Linked DNA regions of Homo sapiens. The protein of the gene in region 5 interacts with the protein of the main gene of each other region in a biochemical or structural test. Each region holds a gene or a part of one and is shown on either strand. Other genes may lie near its edges. The genes, in order: TAF1B, EIF3M, OCEL1, ARGLU1, SRPK1, HMGN3 and ABCF1.

Region 1 (2,222 bases), on a different chromosome or scaffold from region 5:
TGTATTTCTTGAGTATAAGTGAGGTCGAGTATCCTATGATGTTTTTTGGCTTGGCCTTCAGAAAACTAATTTTTCTTTTCTTTTTTTTTTTTTTGAGACAGAGTCTTGCACTGTCACCCAGGCTGCAGTGCAGTGGCGCAATCTCGGCTCACTGCAAGCTCCGCCTCCTAGGTTAACGCCATTCTCCTGCCTCAGCCTCCTGAGTAGCTGGGACTACAGGCGCCCGCCACCATGCCCGGCTAATTTTTTGTATTTTTAGTAGAGACGGGGTTTCACCATGTTAGCTAGGATGGTCTCGATCTCCTGACCTCGTGATCCGCCCACCTCGGCCTCCCAAAGTGCTGGGATTACAGGTGTGAGCCACCGCGCCCGGCCTCAGAAAACTAATTTTTCATATCCCTTACTCAGTTTGCTTTTTTCCTTTTGCTTTGCAAGAGCTATTGATACATTAAAGAAATTATTTCTTTGTCCACCATATGCTGCAAAAATTGACTTTGCCATTCCAAGATCATCAAAGCATTCATATTTGTTTTCTACTAATACTTTTATATTTTTACATATGAAAGATTATGTTTAGATCTTTGATCCATCTGGGATTTACTCTGGGGCATAAAGAATAATGAAGGGATCTAGTTTAAAAAATAAATTTAGCTTTAAAATACGATGAGTATACATTTCTGGATACAATTATACAATTTGCTATTGTTTTAACTTTCTCTTAGAATGTTCATACTCTGAAAAATAAAATCAAATGAAGCTCACCTGCTTTACAATATACATTTTTCTAAGCACACTTGATATATATGTAAATATGTGTCAGAGTCTATACATATATATGCAGTATTTTCCACAATTCTCTGGAATGTTATATTAAAATCTGATGTTATTATCACTATTAAAATATTTTTCCAGAAAGTTTCTATTTCATTTTCTCAATGTCGTCTCACTTTCTTGGATCTTGATTTCTTTCTTTTTACACTGTATTTTTTCTCAAAAAGTTTCTTCTCAACTAAGCTCACTTCTTCATGGAGAAGGGAAGTCTTTATTCTGAGCAGGAAGGAGAAGAGATTTAGTATAAACTGATAACTCAGAGAATAATTTGATTCTTCATAGGTTGTCACATGTGTACAATAGCTAGAAGGGAAAAAGAAAAAAGAATTTATCTTTAGATGGTAACCAAGAAATGCACACACTAACCCCTGAACATCCCCCCAAATAACTTAGCAAATATATATGGTTAGGCTTAAAACAGGACCCTGAGCTGGAAGGAAACTTAGAAGAATTTGTTAACTCCTTAACTGCACAAAGGAAAACATGTTCACACTGTCCATGGCCACCACACAAGGGCCACAGGTGGTGCTAAGAGCTGGTCCTTCAACTCTTTGCTCAAAGTTTCTTCACTCCAGATGGGCCACCACTCCACTTTCTTACCATGGTCAAGGCAAACAAAAGCACACAGGGAGAGATTCTGAACATATTTCTAAAACAAACTAAAGAAAACAAATAATTCCTGACTTCCACCCAAAATAAGACACTAGACTTTATAATGTAGCTTGCAATACTATATGTATTGTGAGAGAAGAGTTTACCAAGCAATTTCCATTATTTTAAAATAGGAAAGCCTTCCGTTACAAGATGGCTGAACAGGAACAGCTCTGGTCTGCAGCTCCCAGCATGATCAGAAGACGGGTGATTTCTGCATTTCCAGCTGAGGTACCTGGTTCATCTCACTGGGACTGGCTGCACAGTGGGTGCAGCCCACGGAGGGTGAGCCGAAGCAGGGCGGGGCATCACCTCACCTGGGAAGGGATTTCCCTTTCCTAGCCAAGGGAAGCCATGACAGACTGTACCTGGAAAATCGGGACACTCCCACCCAAATACTGCGCTTTTCCAATGGTCTTAGCAAACGGCACACCAGGAGATTATAACCTGAGCCTGGCTCAGCTGGTCCCTCGCCCACGGAGCCTTGCTCACTGCTAGTGCAGCAGTCTGAGATTGACCTGCGAGGCAGCAGCCTGGCAGGCGGAGGGGCGTCCACCATTGCTGAGGCTTGAGTAGGTAAACAAAGCGGTCAGGAAGCTCAAACCGGGCAGAGCCCACTGCAGCTCAGCAAGGCCTGCTGCCTCTGTAAACTACACCTCTGGGGGCAGCACACAGCTGAACAAAAGGCAGCAGAAACTTCTGCAGACTTAAACGTCCCTGTCTGACAGCTCTGAAGAAAG
Region 2 (3,500 bases), on a different chromosome or scaffold from region 5:
TTACTGCTATTCATTCATTTAAAATATTTTTAAGAGGCAGGTACTGTGCTGATGACATTATAACGGTGACTAAGAGAGACAAAGTCCCTGTCTATGGGAAAAGTCATAAAACCTTCCTTTTAGTAGGAAAGATGGACAACTAAGGAAAAGTAACTAATAAGTGCTATGAAGGAAATAAATGGTGATTTAATCAAAGCAACAAGGGCAGAAAACGGAAAGGCCGCTTTATGTACAGTGGGAAAGCAGTCTCCCTCAGAAGAGATGGCAAGTAAGCTGAGACCAAAATGATGTAAAATATCCTTTTCTTGGCCATGAAAAGAGCTGGGTTCATGAAAGGTGGGGTAAGATGACTTTCCAAGCAGAGGGAAAACCAAGTATAAAGGCCCTAGGCGCAAAAAAAGTTTTGTGTCCCAGAAACTGTTAGGACAGTATGGCTGAAGTTGAGACAATACCAAATATTTAAATAACTCTACTTAAGATACCCTTCCAATTAAATTATTCTTACAGTTATATACATCAGTTTCACTGGAGTAAATAGGGCAAAATAAATAAATGCAGTCATTCAAACTGGACTTTTAGAAAATGTTTATCTTTACTCCTCATGACTTCTTTAAACTGTGGAATCTTCAGCTTATAGAAAGCTTTGCTAACTAGGAGGAAGAGGTTTTTCTTTTCCTTTTTTCATTTTCTAAAAATACTTACTCCCCACATCTGAGTTTAGCCTGGGCAAAATCAGCAGGAACTGTATCATTTATTTTAAAATGGTAAATGCTATCTAAAACTTCTTTCAAAACTAAGGTTTACTAAGATTCAGAAATACCACTGTAGGCATGGCTAAGTGGTAACCCGCATCTTAAATGTAGTGATATAAATGCCTAGGCACAGTGGCGCATGCCAATAGTCCCACCTACTAAGGAGGCTTGCTTGAGCCCAGGAATTCAAGGCTGTAATGCACTACAATTGCACCTGTGAACAGCCAAATACCCACTGTACTCCAGTGTGGGCAACATGGTCAGACCCTGTCTCTAAAAATAAAAAATTAATACTGAACTCAACCTGGAAGAGGCCATGATCCAAAGGAGCCAGAGCAGCTAAAAAAAACTGTTTATTGGTGGTCTGAGCTTTGAAACTAGAGATGGTAGTTTTAGAGAACATTTTAAGAAATGGAGCACACTCACAGGTTGTGTGGTAATCAGAGACCCCCAAACAAAATGTTCCACAAACTCTGGTTTTGTGACTTACTCTTGTGTTGAAGAGGTGGATGCAGCAATGTGTGCTCAACCACACAAGGCTGAGGAGTGCAATGGAACCAAAGACAGCTGTTTCTAGAGAGAGTTCTGTAAAGCCCAGTGCCCATCCAACAGTGAAGAAAATTTTTGTTGGTGATGTTAAAGAAGATACAGAAGAACATAATTTGAGAGACTACTTTGAAAAGTATCGCAAGATTGAAACCACAGAAGTTACAGGAGGACTGGCAGAGTGGAAAAAAGAGAGGATTTGCTTTTGTAACTTTTGATGATCATGATAAAATTGTGGTTCAGAAATAACACTCTATTAACAGGCGTTAGTGAAGTGAAAAGGGCCCTTTTTAAACAACAGATGCAGTTGTGGAGTGGATCTAGCAACTTTATGGGTTGTGGAGGAAACTTTGGAGATGGTAGTTTTGGCCATGGGTAGAAACTCTGGTGGAAGAGGAGGATATGGTGCTGGGGTGGTGGCAGCAGAAGTAGTTATGGAGGAGGGGTTGCTGGATATAATGGATTTGAAGGTGATGGTGGCAACTACCGCAGTTGTCCTGGTTTTGATAGTAGAGGCGGGTATGGTGGTGGTAGATATGGTGGCAGCAGTGGAGGATATGATGGTTACAATGAAGAAGGTAATTTGGGGAGTGGTAATTACGGTGGTGGTGGGAACTATAATGATTTTGGATATTACAGTGGACAATGACAACCAAATTATGGACCCATGCATGAAAGGGGGCAGTTTTGGTGGATAAAGCTTGGGCAGTCTCTATGGTGGTAAATATGGTAGCACAAGGTTCTAAAAACAGCAGAAAAGGGCTACAGTTTTTGGCAGGAGTGCAAGCAAGGAGAAGTCAGAAAAGCTGCAAGTTACTTTGAGGCAATCATCCAAATGCATTAGAGGAACTGTAAAAATCTGCCACAGAGGAATGATGATCCACAGTCAGAAAAGTTACTGCAGCTTAAACAGGAAAGCCTTCTTGTTCAGGACTGTCATAGCTACAGGTTGCAAAAAGTGCACTATTGATTAATGCAGTGTAGTGTCAATTAGATGTACATTCCTGAGGTCTTTTATCTGTTGTACCTTTGCCTTTTTCTTTTCATTACATCAGGCATGTTACCCTGTAAATTATGGTAGTGTAGTGGTACCAGGAATAAAAAACTAAGGAATTTTTAACTTTGCAATAAAAATTAAAATTAAAAAGTATAATGACTTAACTATAAAAATTCAAAGAAAAACTTTTAAAAAACCACATCTTACTCATTAGTTATCTTGTGCCACACTGTAAGCACAGGTGCAAGTCATTTTCCAGTTTTAGCAACTACAGTATACTTCAACCTTCTCAGCTAAAGAAATCTTTTTAATCCACTTGAAGCACACAGCATGGTGTCTGACATGTAAGGGCTTAGTTACCAGTAACACCCTTTAAAATGCACAACAGGCCTGGTGCGGTGGCTCACGCCTGTAATCCCAGCACTTTGGGAGGCGGAGGCGGGAGGATCACAGGGTCAGGAGATCAAGACCATCCTGACTAACACGGTGAAATTCTGTCTCTACTAAAAATACAAAAAATTAGCCGGGCGTGGCGGCGGCAACTGTGGTCCCAGCTGCTCAGGAGGCTGAGGCAGGAGAATGGCATGAACCCGGGAGGTGGAGCTCGCAGTGAGCTGAGATTGCGCCACTGCACTCCAGCCTGGGCGACAGAGCAAGACTCCATCTCAAATAAAAAAAAAAAAGCACAACAAACACCATGTGCATCAACCACCAATATAAATAAAGTCATGAAGGGGGCACCCATAAACTTGAAGCATTTTTACTTAACTGCTAGGTAAAATCTCAGAATTTTACTGATTAAAATATGTATTTTATGTGTTCTAAAGAAGAAAACCAACTCTCAACATTTAGATTGGCAGAATGTCAGAAATGTCGTGTTTAAACAAGTATCCCCTTCCAGTTCCCTACTGTGGGTAGCATTTATCCACTCAGTGCCCAATAAGTGCTATCTTCTTGGGAATGCAATGGTTTACAGATGAGGTTCCTTGCCTTCACTTAGCCTACAACCTTACTTTCAACTAAGGGTGTTAAATGCTAGGATACAAGTAGAGGGTGCTGTAAAAGGGAGGCACTAACCGAAATATGAGAGGGGTGTTTCTGGCAGAGACATGAAGCTGACTATAGTAAGACTACTTAGACAAGGGGTAGGCAAACGTTCTATAAAGGGCCAGAGAGTAAATATTTTAAGCTTTGCAAGCTATATG
Region 3 (4,148 bases), on a different chromosome or scaffold from region 5:
ACCCCTGGTAGGGGGAGCTGCAAGAGGAAAAGCTGAGAGATACCAAGAAATGCAAGGGACCTGCATCCCCATGCATCCCTCTGCCCATCTGCAGGGGCACTTAGAAGTACACGGAGCCCTCGCTGTCTCCTTGGTCATCGAATTTCTGGATCTGAGTCTTGAGATGCCTCAGTTTACCCTTCAGGTAGTGGCAGCGAGCCTGCTTGTCCAGGAAGCCAGGATCCTAGGCAGGGCGAGACCCGGAAGTCTTTGCAGCAGTCTGCCCTGTGGCCTTCAAGCTGCTTAACTCTCTGCCTTTCATTCTCCGAGCCTCAATTTTCTCTCCTTGAAACTGGGCACAGGCGACCGGGTGAGCCGGGCAAGGTGGCTCATGCCTGTAATCCCAGCAGTCTGGGAGGCCGAGGTGGGCGGATCACTTGAGGTCAGGAGTTCGAGACCAGCCTGGCCAACATGGTGAAACCCCATCTCTACTACAAATACAAAAATTTGCCAGGCACGGTGGTGGGCGCCTGTGATCCCAGCTGAGGCAGGAGAACCGCTTGAACCCGGGACGCTGAGGTTGCAGTGAGCTGAGATCATACCACTGCACTCCCGCCTGGGTGACAGAGCGAGATTCTGTCTCAAAAGAAAGAAAAAAAAAAGAAACTGGGCACAGGCACCCCAGCCTCACAGAAGTCTCAGGGGTGCAAGACCAAGCTGTGGGATGCAAGACTCACCATTCGCTTCATCTCAAACTCCCTCCAAACCCGGGCTGCAACTTGGGCCTCCTTCTGCAAGGGGAGGAGTAGAAAGGGGGTTTAGGGAGAGTTGAATTCAAGAAGGGATGAAGAAACTGAGGCTCAGACAGACTAAATGCCCATCTAGTGGGGACTTCAAGGGCTGACCTTAGCCATGTGTCACGGCGCCCAGCCAACCGAGAGGAGAAAGAGTCCTGGAAATCTGGACCCAGTGGGTGTCCCAGAGGCTTGGGTCGGGCCACTCAGAAGGGCTGCGGGGCAGGGCTTTCTCCCTAGTGCTGACCTGGCTTTGGGGTGGGGGCAGGGAGCTCAGCAGGGCCTCCAGCTGCCTGAGCTTTGCCTGTGCACACCCCACCTCGTGCTGGAGCTCCAAGAACTCTCCGTACTGGTCCTGGAACACTGCGACATAGCGGCTCCGTTCCCTCTCACTGCTCACTGGCGGGTACTTACTACCAGGTTGAAGAGGGTCAGAGTGTGAGTGTAAAGAACCCCACTCTTTCCCCCAGTCAGTGTAATTTGCTTTTCTTTGTCCATGCTGGGCCCCTACTAGAAACGTTCCTTTTCTCTCCCTCTTTTAATTTATTTATTATTATTTTTTGAGATAGAGTCTTGCTCTGTTGTCCAGGCTGGAGTGCAGTGTAGCGATCTCAGCTCACTGCAACCTCCACCTCCCGGGTTCAAGCAATTCTCCCACCTCAGCCTCTTCAGTAGCTGGGATTACAGGCATGCGCCACTATATCCAGCTAATTTTTGTGTTTTTAGTAGAGACGGGGTTTCACAATGTTGGCCGGGCTGGTCTCGAACTCCTGACCTCAGGTGATCCGCCTGCCTCAGCCTCCCAAAGTGCTGGGATTACAGGCATGAGCCACCGCGCCTCGCCTATTTATTTATTTATTTTCGGAGACGGGATCTCACTGTGTTGCCCAGGCTGGAGTGCAGTGGCTTATTCACAGGGACAATCCCACTACTGATCAGCAAGGGATCCTTTCCTTTCTACTCTTTGGTAAACTCTTATTCAACTATCAAAGCCCCAGCCTCAGTGCCCCTCTCCTGATCCCAGGCATGAAGAATCACATGGGGGACACTCACAGCTCATAGTCGGGCACTGGGTGGGGCCTAGGCTTATGCCCCTTAGGGATGGCTCCAATAGGCTTCTTGGCGCCCAGGAGGGCCTGGGAGAGCAACTCATCCTCAAACACAATCTTCTTGGTCTTTGCCTTGTGGGGTCCCGGCTGGGGCTGGCACGGAGGGCGGGGGGCGCTGGTTTTGAGGCCTCGGGGCGCCAGTCCCTGCAGCTGCCACAGGAATCGTGGTCTGGAGTTAAATCGGGGTGTCGGGAAACCGGAGTCCCTCAAACTGGAGGGGCTAAATCTTTTGCCTAGAGGCCCGGCCTGGGGACCCCCTCCCGGTCAGGCTCACCGGGGGCCCAGGCCCAGGCGGGTGAGTATGCAGGTGCCCCCGGGAGCCGCGAGTCTTTGGGGGCTCCCGGGTGGGCATCGGCCTCCGGGAGAAGCAGCTCAGGGGTTTCCGGGCTGATGGGCGGGTCCTGCGGGGGGCGTCGTGTCCCGCGCGCGGCGGGGGTGGTCTGCGGGCGGCCTGTGGGTGGACACGCGGAGAGGACACGCCTGACGACGCGCACGGAGAAAGGACGCGCGGGCAGCTCGGCCGAAGAGCGGCCAACTCTCACCCCGCGGGAGCAGAGTTCCCCAGAACGACCGCTATTTGCATAGACGCACGCGATTGGTCCGCAGCGACGTCCAGACCCCGCCCACGACTGCGCAACCCAAATAAGCGCTATGTAAATGAACTCTGACGTCGCCGCGCAGCCTGGGACCGGCTCGAGTTAACCCCCGCGCTGCCGGAGCCTCGACCTCCAGGGCGCGCAGAGCCCACAGACGACCGCGCCCGAGGAGCTCCTCGGGACCTCCGCCCCACCTGCAAGGCCGTCCGGCTCGCTACCGCCCCGGGTCACCTGTCCCAGCGTCTGGAGCTCCGAGCCTGGATCTGCTGTCGGAGAGGCACTTCCGTCCGGGTTGTGCATTTACTGCAGGATGGACCCGACTGGCGGGGTCGCTCAGCAGGGCTGGGGGCGGGGTCTGACGAAAGGGGGCTGGGCCTGACGGCCTGGGGGCGGGGCTGACCTGGCTGGGCGTGGCCACACACCTTCGAAACATGGTCGACTCCGACCTCGACCCTCAAGTTTGTCTGAAAAAACGGGATGGTTTTGCAAATTTAAACTTATTTATTTTTTTCAGCAATTATATGAAAAAAATTTTTTAACAAGAGTCTCACTTGCCCAGGCTGGAATGCAGTGGCGTGATCTCGGCTCACTGCAGCCTCCGCCTCCCGGGTTCAAGCGGTTCTCCTGCCTCCGGCTCCCGAGTAGCTGGGACTACATGCGCACACTTCCACGCCCAGCTAATTTTTTGCTGTTGTTGTTGTTTGTATTTTTAGTAGAGACGGGGTTTCGCCACATTGGCCAGGCTGGTCTCAAACTTCTGACGTCAAGTGATCCGTCCGCCTCGGCCTCCCAAAGTGCTGGGATTACAGGTGTGAGCCACCGCGCCCGCCCGGAGTTTCGTCATTTTAGCCAGGCTGGTCTTGAACAGCTTCCGGGACTCAAGCAATCCGCTTGCCTCGGCCTCCCAAAGTGCTGGGTTACAGGCGTGAGCCACCGCACCCGCCCCTTTCTTTCTTTTTCTTTTATTTCTTTTAAGGGCGAGCAGGTGGTGTTAGATGGCATCTTTACTGAACAGTACTGTTCCTGGCAGAGCAGAGCTAACTTATAGACAGTGTGCCCCAAATCGGCCTTTTATATATATATATATAGAGAGAGAGAGAGAGAGAGGCTGTGTTGCCCAGGCTGGAGGGCATGATCATGGCTCACTGTGGCCTCGACCTCCTTCCTAGCCTCAATTGATCCTTCCACCTCAGCCTCCCAAATAGCTGGAACCACAGGTGACACAACGCCTCCCTAATTTTTGTGTTTTTTGTAGAGACGGGATCTCGCCGCGTTGCTCAGGCTGGTCTTGAACTCCCGAGTTCCAGCAATCCACCCGCCTCAGCCTCCCACAGTGCTGGGATTACAGGTGTGATCCCATAATCGTGCTTGGCATTTTTTTTTTTTTTTTTTTTTTTTTTTTTTGAGAGGAAATGTCCTTATGGGTCCAGGCTGTTTTCCAACTCCTGGACTCAAGCGATCCTCCTGCCTCAGCCTCCTGTCTGGGATGTGTGTATTTTACATTTGGAACATACTGCCAAGTTACTCCTTAGTGAGATTGTACCATTTATGCTCCAAGAGATACAGGGGTTTTCCCACAACCTTGGCGGCACTGGCATGATAACGGATTCCCTCACCTGTACTTTCTTTTCTTTTTTTTTTTTTTTTGAGACGGAGTCTCGCTCTGTCTC
Region 4 (3,500 bases), on a different chromosome or scaffold from region 5:
GCACTTTGGGAGGACGGTGCGGGTGGATCACAAGGTCAAGAGTTTGAGACCAGCCTGGCCAACATACTGAAACCCCGTCTCTACTAAAAACACAAAAATTAGCCAGGTGTGGTGGTGGGCACCTGTAGTCCCAGCTACTCAGGAGGCTGAGGCAGGAGGATTGCTTGAATCTGGAAGGCGGAAGTTGCAGTGAGCCGAGACTCCGCCACTGCACTCCAGCCTAGGCAACACAGCGAGATTCCATCAAAAAAAGAAAAAAAAAAAAAATTTCTCCAGTATCAATTTACTACGCTCCCAACTTTATTGAACACTATAAGCAAACATGTTAAATATGTTCAAATTCTTACTCAACTTTCTCAAATCCAAGCCTCTTTTTCCCTAAGATATGTTTTTTACTGAAGTTTATCACAAGCATGCCATCAGAATAGTGTCACTCTGGGCCAGGAGCGGTGGCTCACACCTGTAATCCCAGCACTTTGGGAAGCCAAGGCGGGTGGATCACCTGAGGTCAGGAGTTCGAGACCAGCCTGATCAACATGGTAAAACCCCATCTCTACTAAAACAGAAAAATTAGCCGGGCATGGTGGTGGGTGCCTGTAATCTCAGCTACTCGGGAGGCTGAGGCAGGAGAATAGCCTGAACCCACCCAGGAGGTGGAGGCTGCAATGACCCGAGACTGCGCCATTGCACTTCAGCCTGGGCAACAAGAGCAAAACTCCGTCTCAAAAACAAAACAAAGCAAGAATAGTGTCACTCTGATCAAATCTAAATCTGTATGATCTAGAAAAGTGCTAATGTAAAGCATGGCCCACAGACCACTTATAATCTACAAACTAATCAATCCCCAACAAGGACAAATCAATATTAAGGGTTTTAGAAGTTTTTACAGCAATATGACCTCATTTTTCTAGTAATTCATCTTAATTGTATTTTGCGAAAGTAGAGGTCTGAGACAAACTGGGATTAAAAAACAAAAACAGAACTTTTACTACCATTTGAGAAGTATTAGGTTATGACTACCAATATTTTTTCCAGTGATCACACACCGAAAGTCATATTTTTTATTTTTCATGTGGGCAAATAATAGAGGACTGTAAGAATGCAAGGAGGCCAAGCCGTCCCTAGCTACCACAGGGTCAGAAGGGATCAAGATCTTGGCTGGGCACACCAAGCTTCCAGGCCACCCACATAATGAACCCACCACAGCTATCCAATCTCTTTAACATGTCCTAATGGGAGGTCCAGTTCCACCTGCTCAGTAATTTTGCTTCAGTGATTTAACTGTCAACCATATTTTTTTCTTCTTTTCTGAAACATCCATGCCTCACAAACCAGAGTGTATTTACCCTTCAAAGCTCAACCTTCTAACCTCAAATTCAGATTGAACACTTTCCCTCTTCTTCCTATCTGCACTGAGGTTCTCTCCTTATATGGAATCCCAGAATAACTAAAAAAAAAAGTTATCACATACTTATTCATAAGCATGCAGCAATATAACTTAGAATGACTCATCCATTTCACATTCCTATTGCTTTTTCTGCCTTAGCAGATTTTAAGATTTTCTTCGGGAAAGCGGATTATGGCTTTCCAATAGATTCCATTATGGCCTTCACAAATACCAGGTGATATTTACCAAGAATCCATTGTGCCATGCTCACTAAGTTATCTGGAATATTTCTAGCATTATCTCTTATCCAGAGTACTCTATTTTTCAGAAGATGATGTTCCAGAAACAACTGCCCCGTATTAACTTTTTACATTCTTATTAAGGTTATTTATGGTCTTCCTTCATCCCTACTCTCAATGGGATCCACTGTTAACTACTCAGACCCACTTGGATATTTTTCTGTACATTTATAACCACAAAATTTCTTTATACCATGTAACTGGAGCTTACAACTTGCTTTCCCCCACCCCCATCTTTCTATATTATATAATTACCGAAGACTCTGTATTTCTTAAGATTATAAACTAGGAATAGGAAATTACTCCGGTGCACTTACTATCAAATAAATACTATCTACTCCTGGTAACAAGCCAACTAATACAAAGTAAAATGCTGCATATTATAGTTGGTTTAAATATACCCCCAAGCTTTTGTTGTTGCTATTAGTTTTTTAGGCATAGGAGAATGTGAATGAGGTTAGGAAAGAAAAAACTGGGGATAGAGAACAAAATAATTTCCCCAGAAAACTTGTTTTTTAAAATCACTGCAAATTTTGGAGTTCTGTCCAGATTGGAAGGAAAAATCTCAATTGTTCCTATCCTTGCCTCAAAAAGCCTTTAAAGTTAGTCCTGAGAATCCCCCCAAAATAAGTCAAATTATAGGGCACAAAAATCAATCCACAAAATCCGAAAAAAGGAAATAAAGCAAAATACAAAACACTTTTCATGTATGCTTTACACTTACCAGTTTGGCTTGTGCTTCTGCAATTTTTCGGTTATTCTCTTCCAGTATTCGCTCTAGCTCCTCACGTTTTGCACGTTCTTCCTCCTAAAGGGGAGGATATGTTAAGATATTAGAAAAACAAAATGTTTATTTTTATTGATAAATATTTACTAATCTTCCTCTGAACTTTTTTGATATGACTTACAGGGTAGCTTTATAGCTACCTTCTGTCTGACAAATGATAAACTGTGCAGTCACTAAAATTGGTTTCTAGCACTAAATTTAAATCATCCCTCCCAGTCCAAACAGCAACCAACTAAACCCTCCCTAATGATAGTTTCCTGGCAATTATTACTAATACTTTAATATCACACAAATCAACAAGGACAACTACAAAACTGGATAGTATTTACCAAATTAAAAAAATAATATATAAAATATAAATAAAGTGAATATTTGTCTCACCAATTATGTATACCTACGTATTCTTTACCTATACTCCTTTAATCAGCATTAAAAGTTGAATATTTACTGTCTTGTCCAGTGTCCTGCAGAGTGTGCTCCTCGGCTGCCATACGCGCCAGCTTCCTCTTTAAAATGATTTGTACTGTTAGCTTGGCAATACCTGCATCAGCAGCTCAACCATTTATAAAGAAACAACATACAAGGAAGGCTGAGCTGAGGAATGCAGATGTTTATGGTAAGAAGGAACAAAAAATGTAATTCATCATTCCTAAGGCAAACAATTAATAAGAAAAATACATTTACTGTTAGTGAAAAATACAAATGGTAATCCATACTTCATGGAACTACGGGCTTCTTCCATGGGGAAAATGGACTTAACATTCAGATGTTGACAATTTCGGAAGGCAGCTTATATTGTCATCTACAATCTGAACTGAAACTCAGAAATCCAGGGGATGCATGGTCAGGAAATAAAATTCTTCAACTTATTTTTTCTTGGAGAATTTAATGAGATTTTATAATGCAAACTGTATGAAGACTGCTTGATGGCTTGAGCAGTGTTCAGATCACAGCATACATATTCAAATGATTTTAATATTTGGAAAGACTGTCAGAGGGTTGTGTCCGTGTAAAAAAAAAATTGTTA
Region 5 (3,500 bases):
ACCTATCACCTAATATACTATTTAATTTACTTATTTATGTCTATTGTTTATTCTGTCTTTCCTCCCACTATAATAATATAGTAGCCAACGGGACAGGAATGTTTTTCTTTCACTGCTGAATCCCGAATATGGAAAACAATGCTTGGGACAGGGTGGGAGATCAAAAACTATTTGTTTAATGAATAAGAGTTAAACTAGTTAAATCCTTTTTTTTTTTTGAAACGGAACTTTGCTTTGTTGCCCAGGCTAGAGTGCAGTGGTACGATGTTGGCTCACTACAATCTCCACCTCCCGGGTTCAAGCGATTCTCCTGCCTCAGCCTCCTGTGTGGCTGGGATTACAGGCACCTGCCACCACACCTGGCTAATTTTTGTATTTCCAGAAGCAGGGTTTCACTGTATTGACCAGGCTGGTCTTGAACTCCTGACCTCAAGTGATCCCCCTGCCTCAGCCTCCCAAAGTGCCAGGATTACAGGCTTGAGCCACTGTGCCCGGCCAAACCTGTTAAATCTTGCTGGAGGAAGGCCGGGTATGGCGGCTTACATCTGTAATCCTGGCACTTTGGGAGGCTGAGGCGGGCAGAACGCGACGTCAGGAGATCGAGACCATCTCGGCTAACACAGTTAAACCTCGTCTCTACTAAAAATGCAAAAACAAAATTAGCCAGGCATGGTGGCGGGCGCCTGTAGTCCCGGCTACTCGGGAGGCTGAGGCAGGAGAATGGCATGAACCCGGGAGGGGGAGCTTGCAGTGAGCCGAGATCACGCCACTGCACTCCAGCCTGGACGACAGAGCAAGACACCGTCTCAAAAAAAAAAAAAAAAAAGAAAAATCTTGCTGGACAAAATTTTGACAAAATGAACTAAAAATATTTTAAATGTATATACCATTCGAAGTATTTATCCTAAGGAAATAATCACTGATGTAAGCAATGATTTGTCCAAAAGATTATTCACTATAGCTGTGAATTAATTGTGAAAAACTGGAAACAGCCCATAGTGGAATATTTAATACACGAAAAATACTCATGATAATGTTAACTAGGGAAAAGTATGCCCAGTGATTCCATTTTTGTCTTTAAAGGTATATACAGGCCAGGTGCGGTGGCTCACGCCTGTAAGCCTAGCACTTTGGGAGGCCGAGGTGGGCGGATCATGAGGTCAGGAGATGGAGACCATTCTGGCTAACACGGTGAAATCCCGTCTCTACTAAAAATACAAAAAATTAGTGGGGCGTGGTGGCACACACCTGTAGTCCCAGCTACTCTGGAGGCTGAGGCAGGAGAATCACTTGAACCCAGGAGGCGGAGGTTGCAGAGAGCCGAGATTGCACCACTGAACTCCAGCCTGGGCGACAGAACGAGACTCTGTCTCAAAAACAAAAAAAAAAAAAAATATATACACACACACACACACACACACACACACACACACACACACACACACGTTTATTAATAAAAATTAAAATAAATTATGGTTGGCTGGACACAGTGGTATGTGCCTGTAATCCCAGCTACTCGAGAAACTGAGACAGGAGAATCGCTTGAACCCAGGAGGCTGAGGTTGCAGTGAGCTGAGATCTCACCACTGCACTCCAGACTGGATGACAAGAGCGAAGACTCTGCCTCAAATAAATAAATAAATAAATTAATTAATTAATTAATTAAATTATGGCATATCAACTTAATGGAATGCTAGATGAGGTTCTCTTTCTGTCCTGACATGGAACTATTTCTAAGACTCAGTGAAAAAGGCAGACCCTAAAAAAAATAGTAAGGCTGCACTATATGGAATATAGAACCAATTTCCAAGGTGCACTGCTAAGTGTAAAAAGCATCAAATACTATTTCATTTTTTAAATTGTTTCAAATTTACTGGCTCTACTTCCTACTGAATAAAAATGTTAGATATTTAAGTATTTTCTCTTGTAAATTTTTTTTTTAATTTGTGGCCAAATTCAAGTAAATTTTCAATATATCTCCCAAATGACTCCACAAATCAGTGTTAGAGCTGAATTAATTTTACTACCAAATGTATACTAAATCCATAATTATTTAACTGCAAATAAAGTGAAAATTACTGTCCAAACCAGCTTCCTAAGGTAAGTAATAAAATCAGTAAGTATGAAATCCATTCTGGAATTATGTTCCATAGAAACAACTTCAAAAACAGACATATAGGTCAGGCACGGTAGCTCACACCTGTAATACCAGCACTATGAGAGGCCAAGGCAGGTGGATCACTCGAGGTCGAGTTTGAGACCAGCCTGGCCAACATGGTGAAACCCTGTCTCTACCCCGAAAAATACAAAAATTAGCCGGGCGTGGTGGCAGGTGCTTGTAATCTCAGCTACTTGGGAGGCTGAGGCAGGAGAATGGCTTGAGCCCGGGAGGCAGAGGTTGCAGTGAGCTGAGAATGCGCCACTGCACTCCAGCCCGGGTGACAGAGTGAGACTCTGTCTCAAAAAACAAAACAAAACAAAACAAAAACAGACACACACTGTTAAATTATAAAAGCTTATGACAAACAAATAAAGGCTCACAGCTATTGGTATAAACACTGAAAACAAATGTTCAGAGGGAGATAGATGATTGTGCTGTTTCATAGACACAGGACAGTATGTCATGAAAGGGCACCCAAACCCCCAAGCATCCAGAGGTCTCTCATTCAGAAGCCTCTTTCAACTCAGCTTCTACCTTACCTGTTGTAAGACACACCAAAAGCACTGTCACTTAGAAACACATGATTGGTAGCCAGGGCTTTGGGTATGTCAGACCTGGGTTCAAATCCCAGCTTTGCAATTTTCTAGGGGAGTAATCTGACAAACCTCAATTCTCTTATCTGTAAAGTAAAATGGAGATCATCACCAACTAGTTAATGTTAGTAAATAAAAGCACAGCGTCCACAAAAGTAAAATGAAGAATTGTCTAAATAAGAAAATTTAAAATCCCAAAGTCAAATACTCCAGCACAGTGAAAAGAACCCAAAGGAAATCCACTCTAACAAACACAGAGCTGGAAAGGGACCCTGAATTCCAAGTTTTGGTTCTTCTGTCACCAGCTTCAAGACCCTGGGTTTAAGATCTGCAGTACCAGGGGACTGAAAATCCCTTCTGCCTGTGACACAACACGACTAAATTACTAAGGATGCTATTTACTGTAACAGTTCCAAAACTTTCTAAAATTTTCATTTAAACGCTTTGTTTTTATATCTTTAGGTCCTGATCAGTTTTCACTATGACTGAACTGCCAGTCAGGATATATACATAAGACTGTTTCCTTAACTAACTTGTCTAAGGTCAGATTGCTAAAAAGTAGCAAAATCAGAATTCAAAACCACATCTATCTCCAAAGACCAAACTCTATGGCATGCTTCTTCCTCAAATCTTCTTCCTGACTCACCTCCTGTAACTAGCAGCTTGCCTTAGCAAAGTAAATGGAAGTCATCAGGAGTGCAGTCAGAAGTCATGGAACAGAGTCAAGTTACCTTAGTTGAGGCTTG
Region 6 (3,500 bases), about 43 Mb from region 5:
CCTGAAAAGGGTCCAAACATGTTAGCCATTACTCAAAACTGCCTCCCTATCTGCCATCTAGTTGTCTTGAATAAAATCTCCATGAAGTGAGGCAAAATCATGTGAAAAGTTCCCCAGCTGCGACAATGTTGTTCCTCTCCATGTGAAGACCTGAACATACCAAATAGACTAAGTGATGCCAGAGAGCTCTTTGGGATTTCCAGAGACATTCCAATCTAAGCACTGCTCTACTGGGACTAACAGCTGTTCTGATCCAAAGGACTTAATACCTTTTAAAAATTCAGGTCCAGTACAGGAGTTCCAAAATAAAAAGCCTCGGAAATTAATGCAAAAAAAAAAAAAAAAAAAAAATGCCTAAGCTGTCTAAACCAGCCAGTACCTAAAAATCCTATCTTCTATTATAAAATCATTTTATGACTTGCTACATACAATTTCCCAGCTCTTCTTTCTATGCCATTAAAAAAGACTTTTCTTACATTTTCTTTTCCAGTAGCTATCATAAGAGATTTTCGTTTTCACTGCAAACAGTGGAGGCTGAGATGAACCTTTCACTCAGTCAGCAGTACTGATTATGCATACAAGTATGGACACCTTCCTGGAAAGTTCTATCAGCTTTCACAGCCTTAAAATCTGTAAATTATTGGACTATATTTATTGGATATGAAATAGATTAGACTGCTATTTTTTCCTTTTTAAAACACTAACATGTGAAGTACTCATTTGAGACTCAGATTGTTGGGTGGGACTACGAGGGGAAAAAAAAGCTATTAAGAATTTCTCTTGTTTTTTTTTTTTTTTTTTTAATTGTGAATCCTCAGGAAAAGTGGTCCAGAGACTGCTCCTCAGCACTTCTCTGACATTCGCTATTTCCCTTCCTTGCTTTGTTTTCCTTAATTGCCAATATCCAATTATTTTACTAGCTCTCAGGGAGGGAAGGAGGGCTTTTAGAATGAAAAGTCATCATTGATAAATATGACAAACAGATACGACAAATGTGAGGGTTTGCCACTATGGTATATAGGTGCTGGTCACAGTGGAATTATCCCATAGGCATCATCCCATAGGCATGATCATCCTTTAGGTTGGAGAAAATTCTGGTGAAGCCTATTCTGAAAGACATGAAATCTTCTACTTTAATATCCTGGTTGCAAAAGCAACATAGAAGTCTAATCTCCCAATGACAAAGTACACAGGGATAGCTAGATTCAATAGAATCACTGCACTTTGCTGGATACTGCTTGAAACACATGGACTATTCCTCTGGAATGTGGGAGTATTTTTATTTTTATGAGATGTTGTTGCTCCTGAGCCTGACCATGTACCTCCAAGCAAAACCCAAAAGTCAAGTTGCTTTTAATTCTAAAAAAAAAAAAAAATGCCTAAAAAGAAATTGCCTTTTTTTCAAAACTGGGAAGTAGAAAAGTTTGTACCTCAGAGCCTTGGCTGGGAATAGACAAGACAGAAAAATGGATACTGGATTACCAGATTTTTAGGACTGTCATAAAAGGGCCATAGGGATAGCGGATTTTGGAACAGGAGATGCAGATATCTTTCCTGGTTCTGCTATTTACAAGTTCTAACACCCAGGGAAAATCATGTTTCTCTGAGAACTTTGCTCTAGTTAAAATAGGGATAACATCTGTCAATCTGTCCTCAAAAATAGCACTTCTCTGACATTCACTATTCTCCTTCCTTACTTTGTTTTTCTTCATAGCTAATATTCAATCATTTTATTTTACTCTCTCTCCCACTAAAAGGAAGCTCCATGAAAGCAGCGATTTTTGCTTCTTTTGTTCACTGTGGGATCTGGAGAGCTTAGAACAGTGCTTGGCGCATTATAGGTGCTTATATGTTTTCGTTGAGGAATAATCTGCCTTCCTCTCATTTTAGAGTTACTATATGGACCAGACAAAATAATGGATGTAAAAGGGTTTGTAACTGTTGATTGTAATGACTATAATGTATTATTTTGGTTATTTACTGTCCAAGTCCCCTGAAGTACTATCTTCTGCACAATGCCTTCTAATATGGCAGTGGAAGAGGATTTTCAAAAGAGAATCCCCCTTAGTAACTGTTATCTATTCACTAAAGTCAAGGTGGTGCATACTCAATGACATAACTGGAAAATTCAGTCAATCCAGTGGGAAAGAAAAAAAATCAATCAATCAATACACTGACAGTTTTTACCCGAAACCATCAGCAAACTAACTGACCTTTTCACTTTTTAAATAACTGTGTTGATGTCCTGAAGACATTATCATGAGTTTTAATCTGGCCTTGGCTTAAATGACAGGTAGAGCCTTATCTAGAAACCATTTTTATTAACAACCAAAAATACATAAAATATATAGAAATAATATAAAATAAAATATAAAAATAACAATTAAAAATAAAAACATAATAAAAAAATTAGCCAGGTGTGCTAGCATGCACCTACAGTCCCAGCCACTTGGAGGCTGAGATGGGAGAATCACTTGAGCCAGGGAGATCGAGACTGCAGTGAGCTATGATCTTGCCACCTCACCCACTCCAGCCTGGATGACAGAGTGAGATGCTATCTCAAAAAATAAAATAAAATAAAATAAAATAATATGTATAAGACAGCTGTACAAGCAAAACCACACACATATCCTTTATATATACATTCTCACAAGCTTGATTTACTTTTGGTGTAGTGGGATTGGAAAGACAATCAAAGATTACTGGGTGCCATGGTGTTTCTAGGTTTTTTGACTGACAAATCAATTTAAATGCCAGTCCCTAAGGAAAAACCCAAATGCTTTTGTTTTGGTGTCCAAATCTTAAAAACATTTAAGGTTAGTTATACTTAGCCAACTGTTCTAAAAATCACATTTTGCCATTTCCCAAGAAAATTCAAGCATTTATCATTTTTTGGTTGGTTCTTGCATGTGTGTGATGACTCTGTTTTGGATAACAAACTTCATGATTATTCCAAACTCTGTCAAACAGTGAATGCTAGGTACATGGATGATGGGGACAGACTGTTTTGTTTTGCTTTTAAATTATTTCTTTATAGGTTCTGTTTAAGATTTTCCACTTGGCAGAATGAATTTCCTTGTACAAATCTTGTGCAGGGGTTTTGGTATCACGATAAACTCCTCTGAATTATTAACCACATTATGAATCACCCAATCAAAGAACCTGTAACTAGATATTGTTTTTGTCTCACCCATGACCCCTTTTAGTTGATAAGTTCAAGGGTAACAGCTGCAGTTTTCCACCTATTCTAAAGCCCTGTGCAAACGGAATGGTTGTCATCAAAGTTATATCTCTTTTCCTACTGTTTAGCCCATCTTTTTTTAGAGGTTCATAATAATAACTGTGGATGGTCAAATCCAAGAATCTCTTCCAAGTTTCTAGACTTTTGGAGGTTTCTGAATTTTAAAACAAAACATCTTTGAATCATTGCCTAATTAATTATCCCAATATCCTGAGTGTTCCCAATTTAAAAAAAAGCTTTAATATTTTGACATATTGTG
Region 7 (4,165 bases), 5.3 Mb from region 5:
TTTAGGAGTAAGAACAAGAGCTCCATTTTGTACGTATGAGAGAGATTTATTAAAGATCTCAGAGAAGATGTCCCATAAGCAGTTGAATTCATGAGCCTGGAGCTCGGGGCAGAAGTTGGGGGCCAGCAAGAGAAGTTTGGGAATCTTCATTGGTTATAGATGGTATTTAAAGTCAGGAGGTGATAGGTGATAAGTCTAGATTAAGGAGAGTGTCAAAGATTTAGCCCTGAGGCACTTCAACATTTAGACTTCAGGAGAAGCCCATTAGATGCAAAGGAAACCTATAGAGAGTAGTGTCCCTGAAGAAAACAAAGGAGGGAGGGAGCGACCAAGTCTATCAAACATTGATGGGAGAGTGAGTAGGATGGCCCCAGATCTGTTGACTTTGGCAAGTGTGAATTCAGACAATGGTGGCAACAAAAGCATGATTGTAGTGGTTTGAGAGCTGACAGAACTACAGGAGCACCTTGCTCAAGCTCCCATATTAAGTGGTAGAGTTAGAAGTGAACCAAAGTCTTGATTGTGGTGATAGTTTACTGGGTTTATGCAGGTCAAAACTTATTTAAGTGATACTTTGCAGTTTATTTTGGGTGCCATTTTATTTTGTGTACAGTTTATTGTATGTCAATTATATCTCAGTAAAGCTGTTACCAAAAAAAATAAATGAACCGAAGCTCCACTGCACCGTGACTTCTGCATGTTGGGCTCCAGTTCCCTGTTTACAATTGTACACTTCGGGATTTTGTGACACATTTCAACACTGGACCGATCAGACCTCTCCCTTAGCCATTGGTCTGCACTGTCTTTTCTGCCCATGACCCAGTCAGTCTCGCGCCCCATGACCCTCTCCTAAAACACGCGCAGTCTCCTCTCTCTTCCCCTTCCTCTCGTGTCTTCCTTGCCTACCAGCCTCACCTGATGGGCTCGTGTTCTCTCCGTCCCCGATCCACTCGGGCTCCGGCAGCTGCTGCTTGGGCGCCTTCGGCATCGCGGTGGCAGAACTAGAAACGAGTTACAGATAGAAACTAGAATATGCTTTTTAAAAAAACAAAAAACAAAACAAACAAAAAAACAGTATGCCTCAACTCCTTCATACTAGTAGGAAATTATTATGTTCATTCCTTGAGTCTCGCGGCGTCGGGAGGTCACGGCGTCAGGCTTCCCAGACAGTCGTAAACGCCATGTGTTTACGCGACTGGAGCAAGCGGACGCCGGCCCCGCTCCGTCATTGCAGGCCACGCCTCCACTGAACCAGGGCCACGCCCCCGAGATGACGGCGAAGCTCGCACGTGCGCAGCCCGGGGGCGGGGTTGGCCGCGCCAGCTTGGAGAGCCAGCCCCATCGGGGTTCCCCGCCGCCGGAAGCGGAAATAGCACCGGGCGCCGCCACAGTAGCTGTAACTGCCACCGCGATGCCGAAGGCGCCCAAGCAGCAGCCGCCGGAGCCCGAGTGGATCGGGGACGGAGAGAGCACGAGCCCATCAGGTGAGGCTGGTAGGCAAGGAAGAAACGAGCAGAGGGGGAAGAGAGAGGAGACTGCGCGTGTTTTAAGAGAGGGTCATGGGGCACGAGACTGACCGGGCCCCTGCGGGAGTTACTGCGCATGCGTGCCGTGGGCCCGGGAGGAGTTTGCCGGGGAGGAGTGGGTTTGGAATCGGGGTTAAAGGAAAGAGATCCAGATGTCGCACGTGACCTAAGTGAGACTGGGCGAGATAAAAGAAAGAGCATATGGCACCGAGGGAGAGATGGGGAGAAATGGGAAAACCTTGCTTAAAAAATTTGGACATCCGCCCCACCATACACTGTATTCCACCAGGAATATATGAGCCCTGCCTCGACCTCCCCTTCCCCCTGCGCGCGCATACACACACCTTGGGAGCCTGTGATCCCCCTTGTTTCTCAAGAGAGGGTGACTCCTTCATGGTTTCTTTCTTAAGACACCCCTCTCACTCAACTGGAGCAAGAGTGTAGATTTTTGATGTTGGAATGAGGGTTAAGGTTTACTTAAAAAGCAGCGAAAGTTTGTTAAGCGCTTGTTTTTAATTAAGCACTCTATATACTGTGCTTTGAGAGGGGAAGGAAAAAAACATGAAGATATCCTCCCAGGGTTGAAGTCAGTTTTAAGGGGGACATAAATGGACACAACTAACCCCAGTAGGTACACAGTAACTAATTTTAAAAGCACTTATTGGATGCCTACTGTATACCAGGTACTGTGTGGAGGAAGTGGGAATGTAGAGATAAAAGATAAGACTTTCCCTCAAGGGACAACCCAGTATGGTGAAGGGTCAGAGCATTAACCAGACAGACAGTGGTTGTCAGAGTATGATGAAGGTGCTTAAGAATGTTATGGGACTGTAGAAGAGAGGAGGAGCATCTACTCAGACAGGTAAGGGAGTGTCAGCAAAGCCTCCCAAGAATATGTAATAGCTGAGTATTTTTTTTTGAGGCACATTGTAGCTCCATCACCCAGGCTGGAGTGCAGTGGCATGAACATGGCTCACTGCAGCCTCCACCTCCTGGGTTTAAAGGATCTTCCTGCCTCAGTCTCCCAAGTAGTTGAGACTACTGGCATGCACCACCACACCTTATTTTTAAAATTTTTTGTAGACACAAGATCTGGCTATGTTGCCTAGGCTGGTCTCAAACTCCTGGGCTCAAGTAATTCTCCTGCCTCAGCCTCCAAAAGTGCTGGGATTACAGGCGTGAGCCACTACATCTGCTCCCCAGAGTTTATTCTTGAAAGATCATCGTGAATTAGCAAGGGGAAGCGCATTCCAAGCCAAGGAAGTTTGTGGAAGGTAGAGATGTAGGCAAGCCTGACTGGTCCCACTAGAGCCTGGTGACTAGTGTGATGAAGTCAGAAAGATGCTCAGGAGACAGATAATGAAAGGCTTTAGATGCCATTCCGAGGAGTTTAATCCTAAAGACATTAAGAAGGAAGGCCCATTGAAGTGCATAAGGAATGATTATGAACAGTTCACCTGTAGCACTGAGCAATGGAGAATGAATGGCCTTGAACTGGTCAAGATGGAGGCGGGGAGACCATTTAGGGGGCTCTGGCCATGATCTAGGTGAGAAGTGGTAAGGGGATAAGCCAAGGCCTGAAGAATAAAGAGTTACTAAGGAGGCGGCATTGATCGGAACTGAGAACTGATTAAATGAAGGGAGAAGTAAGGTTGACACTTAAGTAACCCAGTGACTAGTAGACTATTAACTGAAAGCAGTAATGGACAGGAGAGTAAGAAGTGGAAAGAGATAAGGTGAACTTCTGAATGCTGAGTTAGGCGTTTCTGAGGATTTCTAAAAGGAAATGGCAAGAAGAGAGTTTGTTTAGTCACTGTGGAGAGACAACTATACTAGGAGTAAAGACACAGGCAAGTAGAGTTGAAGTGCTGGATATGGAAGAGTCCCCTAGAGAGTGTTTGCAGATTGAACCAAAAAGAAGGTTAAAGGTGGGAACCCTAAAGAACTTCAGCAATTGCAGGAAGCAGGTGGGGAAGGAGGCTGAAGAGATGAGACTGAGAAAGGCAAACAGCCAGAGAAACTGGAGGCAAACCAGGAGTGAGCAAGATCCCAGAAATTAAATAATGATAGAAGAGAATAAAAAAGGTGTGGAGGTAGGCAGCATGGAATGCTGCAGAGAAGTCAGGCAAAATAAGGACCAAAAAATACTTTGTGGTTTGAGGAGCTAAGGGTTCAGTGGCAACTTTGGCAGAAGTAGTGTTCATTCGGAGATGATACCAGATTGCAGTATGTTTCAAAGGTATGGGAGAAGAGAAAGTGAAGCTTGTGAATTACGATTTTGAGACCCAATGAGGACAAGAATACGAAACAGTAATGGGGGAGAGGGGTATAAGGGTAAAGAAGGCTTGCTTTCTTGCCTTGAAGGAGCAGCTTAAGCGATATACGAAAGGAGAGAAGACACAGTATATCTCTAGCCACACTTAATCTTTTTCAGTTCCTTGGGGATTATACTTTCTCACAATGAAACTCTTCGGAGGCTTTTCCTGTCCCTATAATGAAGTGGATAAGAGTGATTAAAGTACAAAAGATTTTTTTGGTTTTGGTGGGTTTTTTTTTTTTGTGACGGAGCCTCACTCCAGGCTGGAGTGCAGTGGCGCGATCTCAGCTCACTGCAGCCTCAATCGCAGGCTCAAGCCATC

The links.
Region 1: of the proteins of SRPK1 (region 5) and TAF1B, one has a biochemical effect on the other in vitro, tested with the Homo sapiens proteins (one large-scale study listed by BioGRID and IntAct).
Region 2: of the proteins of SRPK1 (region 5) and EIF3M, one has a biochemical effect on the other in vitro, tested with the Homo sapiens proteins (one large-scale study listed by BioGRID and IntAct).
Region 3: of the proteins of SRPK1 (region 5) and OCEL1, one has a biochemical effect on the other in vitro, tested with the Homo sapiens proteins (one large-scale study listed by BioGRID and IntAct).
Region 4: of the proteins of SRPK1 (region 5) and ARGLU1, one has a biochemical effect on the other in vitro, tested with the Homo sapiens proteins (one large-scale study listed by BioGRID and IntAct).
Region 6: of the proteins of SRPK1 (region 5) and HMGN3, one has a biochemical effect on the other in vitro, tested with the Homo sapiens proteins (one large-scale study listed by BioGRID and IntAct).
Region 7: of the proteins of SRPK1 (region 5) and ABCF1, one has a biochemical effect on the other in vitro, tested with the Homo sapiens proteins (one large-scale study listed by IntAct).

What each region holds. Positions count from the first base shown.
Region 1 is NC_000002.12:9,932,695-9,934,916, reverse strand, and holds the end of TAF1B (TATA box-binding protein-associated factor RNA polymerase I subunit B), read right to left. Parts: intron 1,135-2,222; coding exon 933-1,134; 3' UTR 501-932; downstream 1-500. UniProt on the Homo sapiens protein: Component of RNA polymerase I core factor complex that acts as a GTF2B/TFIIB-like factor and plays a key role in multiple steps during transcription initiation such as pre-initiation complex (PIC) assembly and postpolymerase recruitment events in polymerase I (Pol I) transcription.
Region 2 is NC_000011.10:32,590,331-32,593,830, reverse strand, and holds part of EIF3M (eukaryotic translation initiation factor 3 subunit M), read right to left. Parts: intron 1-3,500. UniProt on the Homo sapiens protein: Component of the eukaryotic translation initiation factor 3 (eIF-3) complex, which is required for several steps in the initiation of protein synthesis.
Region 3 is NC_000019.10:17,224,878-17,229,025, reverse strand, and holds the start of OCEL1 (occludin/ELL domain-containing protein 1), read right to left. Parts: upstream 2,801-4,148; 5' UTR 2,779-2,800; coding exon 2,710-2,778; coding exon of another isoform or gene 2,673-2,709; intron 2,334-2,672; coding exon 2,157-2,333; intron 2,052-2,156; coding exon of another isoform or gene 2,033-2,051; coding exon 1,827-2,032; intron 1,187-1,826; coding exon 1,021-1,186; intron 771-1,020; coding exon 717-770; exon of another isoform or gene 711-716; intron 224-710; coding exon 101-223; 3' UTR 18-100; coding exon of another isoform or gene 1-17.
Region 4 is NC_000013.11:106,554,638-106,558,137, forward strand, and holds part of ARGLU1 (arginine and glutamate-rich protein 1), read right to left. Parts: intron 2,495-3,500; coding exon 2,411-2,494; intron 1-2,410. UniProt on the Homo sapiens protein: Dual function regulator of gene expression; regulator of transcription and modulator of alternative splicing. General coactivator of nuclear receptor-induced gene expression, including genes activated by the glucocorticoid receptor NR3C1.
Region 5 is NC_000006.12:35,914,599-35,918,098, forward strand, and holds part of SRPK1 (SRSF protein kinase 1), read right to left. Parts: intron 1-3,500. UniProt on the Homo sapiens protein: Serine/arginine-rich protein-specific kinase which specifically phosphorylates its substrates at serine residues located in regions rich in arginine/serine dipeptides, known as RS domains and is involved in the phosphorylation of SR splicing factors and the regulation of splicing.
Region 6 is NC_000006.12:79,210,683-79,214,182, forward strand, and holds part of HMGN3 (high mobility group nucleosome-binding domain-containing protein 3), read right to left. Parts: intron 1-3,500. UniProt on the Homo sapiens protein: Binds to nucleosomes, regulating chromatin structure and consequently, chromatin-dependent processes such as transcription, DNA replication and DNA repair.
Region 7 is NC_000006.12:30,570,077-30,574,241, forward strand, and holds the start of ABCF1 (ATP-binding cassette sub-family F member 1), read left to right. Parts: upstream 1-1,365; 5' UTR 1,366-1,411; coding exon 1,412-1,484; intron 1,485-4,165. UniProt on the Homo sapiens protein: Isoform 2 is required for efficient Cap- and IRES-mediated mRNA translation initiation. Isoform 2 is not involved in the ribosome biogenesis.